Linked DNA regions of Homo sapiens. The protein of the gene in region 2 purifies or fractionates together with the protein of the main gene of each other region. This does not show direct contact. Each region holds a gene or a part of one and is shown on either strand. Other genes may lie near its edges.

Region 1 (3,654 bases), on a different chromosome or scaffold from region 2:
CGGCCAGGCAGCATCTTTAGCTGGACAGGAAAATGAGAAGTGACAGCATTTAGAGGGAAGCAAAAAGAACAACACAGGTTACAGGTTGCAAGTAATTTTCCATTTTGTATTTTCGTTCTTTTTCTTTTTTTTGAGACTGAGTCTTGCTCGCCCAGGCTGGAGTGCAGTGGTGCGATCTCGGCTTACTGCAACCTCCACCTCCTGGATTCAAGCAATTCTCCTGCCTCAGCCTCCCAAGTATCTGGGATTACAGGCGCCTGCCACCATGCCCAGCTAATTTTTGTATTTTTAATAGAGATGGGGTTTCACCATGTTGGCCAGGCTGGTCTCGAACTCCTAACCTCAAGTGGTCTGCCTGCCTCGGCCTCCCGAAGTGCTGGGATTATGGGCTTGAGCCACCAGGCCCGGCCCCATTTTGTATATTTTTTAAGGCTTTCATTTTATGCCAGTCCTTCCCCCAGGATGGAACATGGCATAAAATCAGAGTCATCATTAGCATTGAAATGTAATTAAAGCTTGGACAGCTTGGAAAAGAATTCTCAAAGTATCTACTGTCTTTTTCAGATTTTTGTCATTTCAACAAGAGTAAAAGTTTCATAAATAAGATTCTTTAGTAATGTATTAGAATGAAAGTGAAAAATAATACAGAAAAAAAAATATACTGGCCTGGCACAGTGGCTAACTCCAGCCTGGGGACAGAGCAAGACTCCGTCTCAAAAAAAAAAAAAAAGAAATATACCTTAAAGTGATCGCCTTGACCATGTTTTCTAAGTGTCCCAGTTGTCTTGCTGCTAACAATATCTCCAAAGCTCAGTAGACTAAAACAAGGTTTATTTCATACCACACAATCTGTTGGGTCAGGAGTTAGGCAGTTCTCTCACATTGTGCCCGTGAGGGTCATTCACTTGGCAGCAGGGCTGGTATGGAGGGTCCCAGATAGTGATAGCATCCTTCCTGGCCCCAGCCCCTGGTTGGGGAGCTGAAAGTCGGGACTCAGCTTCTTCATATCCTCTTTTCAGCATGGTGGTGGCCAGCCCATACTTGCAAAAGTCCAGAACAGACTTGGGTCCCTTTGCAGGCCACACCCAAACTGGCACAGCGTCTTGTTCACTGTGCTTGTGGTCAGAGCAGCCCATCTGCCTGCGGAGGTGCTGGGGAGCTCGTGCCACCTCCGAGCTGCTCGCGTCCTTGCTCACGTCCTTACTCACATCCTTACCCTGCTATACTGTCCAATATTTCCTATTTGTCCCTACTGTCTGGCTTGTGAAGCCTTGTCCTGAGCAGTTAAATGATGAAATTGTACATTTGATTTGTTAGCTGTATTTTTGTCTAAACGTTAGTTGTTTAACTATATTAAAATTATCTTTACAAATCATCTTGAATCATCTCACATAGCACACATTAGGAAACACTGGTCAGAAGGACTTGCTTTATGTAGAGCTCCACTGTTTGTAGGGAGGTGGCCCCTGCTGCGCGTGTTTGGCGGCAATGTCACCTTTTGTTCTGTGGTCAGTTGGTCACTATGTGCTTACACTTTACCGCTAGGTATGGACGACAAAGGCGACCCGAGCAATGAGGAGGCACCTAAGGCCATCAAACCCACCAGCAAAGAGTTCAGGAAAACATGGGGTTTTCGAAGGACCACTATCGCCAAGCGAGAGGGCGCAGGGGACGCGGAGGCTGACCCACTGGAGCCGCCACCCCCACAGCAGCAGCTGGGCCTGTCCCTGCGGCGCAGTGGGAGGCAGCCCAAGCGCACTGAGCGCGTGGAGCAGTTCCTGACCATTGCGCGGCGCCGCGGCAGGAGGAGCATGCCTGTCTCCCTGGAGGATTCTGGTGAGCCCACGTCCTGCCCCGCCACAGACGCCGAGACAGCCTCCGAGGGCAGCGTGGAAAGCGCTTCTGAGACCAGAAGCGGCCCCCAGTCTGCTTCCACAGCTGTGAAGGAACGACCAGCCTCTTCTGAAAAGGTGAAAGGAGGGGATGACCACGATGACACCTCCGATAGTGACAGCGATGGCCTGACCTTGAAAGAGCTTCAGAATCGCCTTCGCAGGAAGCGGGAACAGGAGCCCACTGAGAGGCCCCTGAAAGGGATCCAGAGTCGCCTGCGGAAGAAGCGCCGGGAGGAGGGTCCCGCCGAGACTGTGGGCTCCGAGGCCAGTGACACTGTGGAGGGCGTCCTGCCCAGTAAGCAGGAGCCCGAGAACGATCAGGGGGTTGTGTCCCAGGCTGGGAAAGATGACAGAGAGAGTAAGTTGGAGGGAAAGGCGGCTCAGGACATCAAAGATGAGGAGCCTGGAGACTTGGGCCGACCGAAGCCTGAATGTGAGGGTTACGACCCCAACGCCCTGTATTGCATTTGCCGCCAGCCTCACAACAACAGGTGGGTCATGTGTGGGCACCCACAGAAATCCCAGGGTTGCAAACAGAATTTTCCATTTGTTTTCATTTTAAAGGGTTACAAAGCTGGGCTGGATGAGCGATTTGTTGGAAAAGATGAACAAGTTGTCAAAAAAGAAACACATAAGAGTGGCTAAGGACTTCCTAGAGCCACCTCTCCACTCTGGTAGCCACTGGCCACACATGGCTGTTTCCAGTCAAGTGAGGAGGTGAATAGCGCCCCACCCCAGTCACGTGAGCCACGTGCAGCCAGTGGCTCTGTGTAGACGGCATGGAGGAGAATGTGTCCGTCACTCCGGGGTCTGTCTGAGACTGCTCCTCTAGACTGCCCCTTGGGAGACATAGCAGAGGGGCATGTGCAGACCGCAAGTGTCCTAGTGCAAACATTGGGGCAGCTCAAAAGATCTCTGCTAGGACTGGGTGTCAGACGGTGATAGGCAGCCTGTTGGCTTGGCGCTGGGATAAAGGCATTGTCGCAGTTTTGGGGGGAGACTTGCTGAGGTATCTGTGGTGGAATGCCTTAGAGTTTGCTCCTAAAATGCGCTACTCTTAAAAAACGGTGAAGTAAATTTGGTTGAATGTTAAAATCAAAGGAAAGGCATGAGGACGTTCTTAATCTCTACTTTTCTGTATATTTGCATTTTTTCATGAAGTTAAAACCAATTGTCTTATTAATGTGTTGAAAAGTGCTTGTCACTCACGTCCCATTGCTAATACCGTTATTTTATAATTTCAGGTTTATGATTTGCTGTGACCGCTGTGAAGAATGGTTTCATGGCGATTGTGTGGGCATTTCTGAGGCTCGAGGGAGGCTTTTGGAAAGGAATGGGGAAGACTATATCTGCCCAAACTGCACCATTCTGCAAGTGCAGGATGAGACTCATTCAGAAACGGCAGATCAGCAGGAAGCTAAATGGAGACCTGGAGATGCTGATGGCACCGATTGTACAAGTATAGGAACAATAGAGCAGAAGTCTAGCGAAGACCAAGGGATAAAGGGTAGAATTGAGAAAGCTGCAAATCCAAGTGGCAAGAAGAAACTCAAGATCTTCCAGCCTGTAAGTGTTTGTCCGCTGAGACGAGCATTCAGCAGTCGGCCTCACTGGTTTCAGTCTCGCTCTAGATAGAAATTCCTCCCAGGACGGGTGCTGCACCCATGTGGGGCGGTGCCTCTCCCGGGTTCCTGCCTCACTCCACCTGGGTGAGGCCTTTCTATTTTTATTCTTACCCTGTCTACCTCCTCTACTATTA
Region 2 (3,654 bases):
GAGCCAGGGAAGCCCATGGTCCTGACAAATGGGGCAAGGGTAAAAGCTTCCACCCCCAGGAATCACTGTGCAAAACTCCCCCCGAGCCTCAGTTTCCATTCCTGTAAAATGAGACAGTTGGAGCAGATGCCCTTCTAAGCCCTCTTCCAATTTACTACTGTGACTGTATAAACTTTAGATTCTTTGGTAGAAACAAAATGTCTGTATTTAACCAAACATGAAGGTTCAGTTTCAACAAGAGTTAATCACAGATCAGTGACCACATTCAGCAGATTAGACTTAAGGCTGGACAGTGGCTTTTAATAAATTCAAAAAATAGACCATAAGGCAGATCCTTGCCAGAAGGAGTTGTTTTTCCTATCTTCTTTTCCCTCGGCAGGTAACTCTGTTGAGTTCAGGGGAGGGGGAAGTGCCTTTGGTGTTAACCTTATTATGTTAAGTCAGTAGATTCTGGGAAGATAGGGAGGAAGATCCTGTCCAAGCCTGATTAGTGTTTCCTTCAAGTACCCAACCCCCAGGAAGCTCCTGGGGCAGGGGGGCATTGCCCTTCTCCTGGGACTTTTCTAAAAGACAGGTTTCTCTCCATGAAGGCAGTATGACCTTGACTGGTCTCTATTATACAAGAGATAAAAATATGTTTGACTTACCCATGATAAATTCTAAACAATTACTTTATTCCACACCACAGCCCAGCTTCCCTTTGATGAAAATGTTTTTCTCTTTGAGAAACTTCACATGGGAAATAGTAGGTCCTTCTATCTAGGATAGTATGCTCCATCTGGCTACATGAGGAGAAAAATCATCCTCTTTCGTGTCCTCCTATGCCCTGTGAATTTGAAATGGTTAATGATTTCATGAAGAGTCCAAGTCATCTAATTTTTATTTTGCTTGAGAGCACATGCAGTATTTATGTAAAAAGCCTCTCCAGCAGACTTCTAATGGTGGAAACTATCGTTACTACTGCCCTATGGTGTGAATAGCTTGTCCCCAAGTAAGGTAGTGAATGTGAGGAAGATTATAGCGTAATGGCAGTTTGCTGGGAGGTGCTATCAGGCAGTAAACAGTAAGCCACTTTTTAAAAATCTTAACCTGCAAACTCCCCCTGCCTCCCAAAAATGTGTGTAGTAAGATGATTTAGTTAATGTAGCAAGGCTAACAGAAAAGATCTGTTCTGATACATATTGTGTGCCTGTGTATTGTTAATCTGGAACAGAGACCTTTATTTACAAGTTTAATTATAGTAAAAAGGTGAACAATTTAAGAAGCCCCCGCTTTGAACAATTTCACTACAATATAAAACAAAATCCACACAAATGTTCTGAGAGGTGGGGGGAATGGTATTAATTCAGACCTTGAAAGAAAGGGAGACTCATTAGACACTTGCTTTAAACTCTAGCAATGACCTGAACATGAATTACTTGCAGTTAGAGACAGAAAAGGGGGAAACTACCGGTGGATAGACTCCTAAGCAGTGGGGAAAGTTGTTGAGCTTTTCTTCTTTGAAAATGGAGCATTCTTATTAATAGTTCCATTGAGCGATCTTGCCATCTGTGAGGCATTAACCCAGAGACCCTCCTTCTCTTTGCAGGCTGGACAATTTGCTTAATATGGCCTATGGCGTAAAGAGGTAATTAAAACTCCACAGATTGCCAGATGTCCATGTTGGCACAGACTGGGGCTAGAATTTTTTTTTTTTAATTCACTAACTTTACTTTAAAAGAAAAAAATTCTTCCTTTTTCTTCCACCAGCATGTCAAATTCTTAATTTTAATTTCGGACCTCAGTTGATTTTGTTTCTTTTAGGGCACACAAAATGTATTTGTGTGTTTCACTTTTTCTTTTATTTGCAGGTGGGCTTCTCCTATGGTTCAGGTGCCACAGCTACCAAGCCCTTAATAATCTGGTCCTTTGAATGGCTCCCCTAAGGGGAAAGGCTCCGACTCTTTGCTGGCTGGTTTTGCAAACTTGCAGAGCAAACTGTTTTGCATTAGCAATGCCAAGATTCAGTTAAGAGGGCAGATTCCAGCAAATCAGAATTAGAACATTTTGCTAATTGTGGTTGACAATCTTATGATTTTTCAGTAGAAAAATTAGATTTTGGACTACCAGCTCTGGCCAAAGGATAAACAAACACGTGGATGACTTTCTAACTCCTGCCCCCACTTCAGTGTGCATTTCAGAGCACATCCTGAGAATGAAGTGTATCTGTGTGCACCTCAACCAGGGGTTTCTTTTGTTACAGGTTTTAACAGTTCTTATAAATCCTCCCTTGGTTATATGTTATGTGTGTTTTAAACTTGCTGTTCCTGTCACTGAAAGGCTTTTTGTGGGGTTGGGGGCCCAGAGTCAAGGCTTTTGGGGCTCTCTGAATGCAGATTCAAAGTTTTCCAGACCCAGTATGAAATCTGAATCTTGGAAAGTTGGGTGTGTGATGTCACTGTGTCCATGAGATTCCCATATGTGCTTCTGATAAGCTCCACTGCACTGCTAGGGACATAGTGTCTTCATCATCTTGCTCAGTAGAGCTGCACACTTTAATTCCCCTTCCTACAGTCAAGGGAAAGAGATGTAGTCTTTAATAGTCCACATCACACCCCCAGTTCTTTCACTGGCCATCCATGGTAAGTACCCTGACTCTGGGAACTGGTGCATGGTAGAGGAAGTAACCTGACTGCAGACTTCACTATCAGAGGACCGGCCTTTCAAATCTCAATCCCAGCATCAATGAGGATAACTATGAATTATCTCCACATTTCCAGCACACTGTTTGCCTGTTCCCAGGGATTTTACATCTTTCCTAGCTCTATCTCATTCCTTTGCTCCTCTCTGATGTTAGTGAGGTAGTGCTAAATGTTGTGAAAAGAGAAATGCTTATAAATAGATAAGATAGGGGAAGACACAGCTGTAGTAGGCCTGCCACCACCTCCTCCACTGCCCCACCCAGAGTAAACATCACTAGCTGATAATAGCATTCTCTTTTCCTATTGAACCCAGATTTGGATTTAGAACGCTTCCTACCAAAATGCTGCAATTAACTGTCACCAACTAGGATAGAGGCTGTACTTGCAATCTCTTTGCTGGCCCTGACCTTTGACTTATAATAAATACTTAGCTGTTTTCTACCTATAAACAGAAAGAGGTCAGTTCACCAGGGTCAACTCACTTGGTTGGAGGATAGAATATTAAAAAGACAATCTTCAGAAATGATACAAGTTACAAATAGACATGGATTTGCACGTCTAAGGATCTACACCATGATATTTTTTGGCTTTTTCTTGTTAATTGTTTTTAAACAAGAGGGAAGATTGACTTAGTGAATAATAGCAAAAATATTGTCTATTGAGTTGTTATATTTAGCATATATTCAGTAGCCATTTGATTATCCAAATTCTAGTTAGATACAGAACTATTCTTTAATAGGACTTTCAAATCTCCAAGAATATTTGCTTATTTTTAAAAACAGTTGTAGCTCACACTTTACACCATGCTCTTCCCTAGTTTTTGCTTTCTCTCCTTTTCCTATCTCCCCCAGTAAAACCCTGGCCAAATGAAAAGCAAGAAACTATTCAGTGTATAGCATCAAAAATCCGTATATAAGCTCATGCCTGTAATCCCACCATTTTGGGAGGCCAAGGTGGGTGGATCACCTGAGGT

The links. The genes of interacting proteins can lie anywhere in the genome.
Region 1: the proteins of ELAVL4 (region 2) and DIDO1 purify together in Homo sapiens (co-immunoprecipitation; one large-scale study listed by IntAct). This does not show direct contact.

What each region holds. Positions count from the first base shown.
Region 1 is NC_000020.11:62,909,506-62,913,159, reverse strand, and holds part of DIDO1 (death-inducer obliterator 1), read left to right. Parts: intron 1-1,545; 5' UTR 1,546-1,547; coding exon 1,548-2,386; intron 2,387-3,139; coding exon 3,140-3,461; intron 3,462-3,654. UniProt on the Homo sapiens protein: Putative transcription factor, weakly pro-apoptotic when overexpressed. Tumor suppressor. Required for early embryonic stem cell development.
Region 2 is NC_000001.11:50,195,841-50,199,494, forward strand, and holds part of ELAVL4 (ELAV-like protein 4), read left to right. Parts: intron 1-1,588; coding exon 1,589-1,627; intron 1,628-3,654. UniProt on the Homo sapiens protein: RNA-binding protein that is involved in the post-transcriptional regulation of mRNAs. Plays a role in the regulation of mRNA stability, alternative splicing and translation.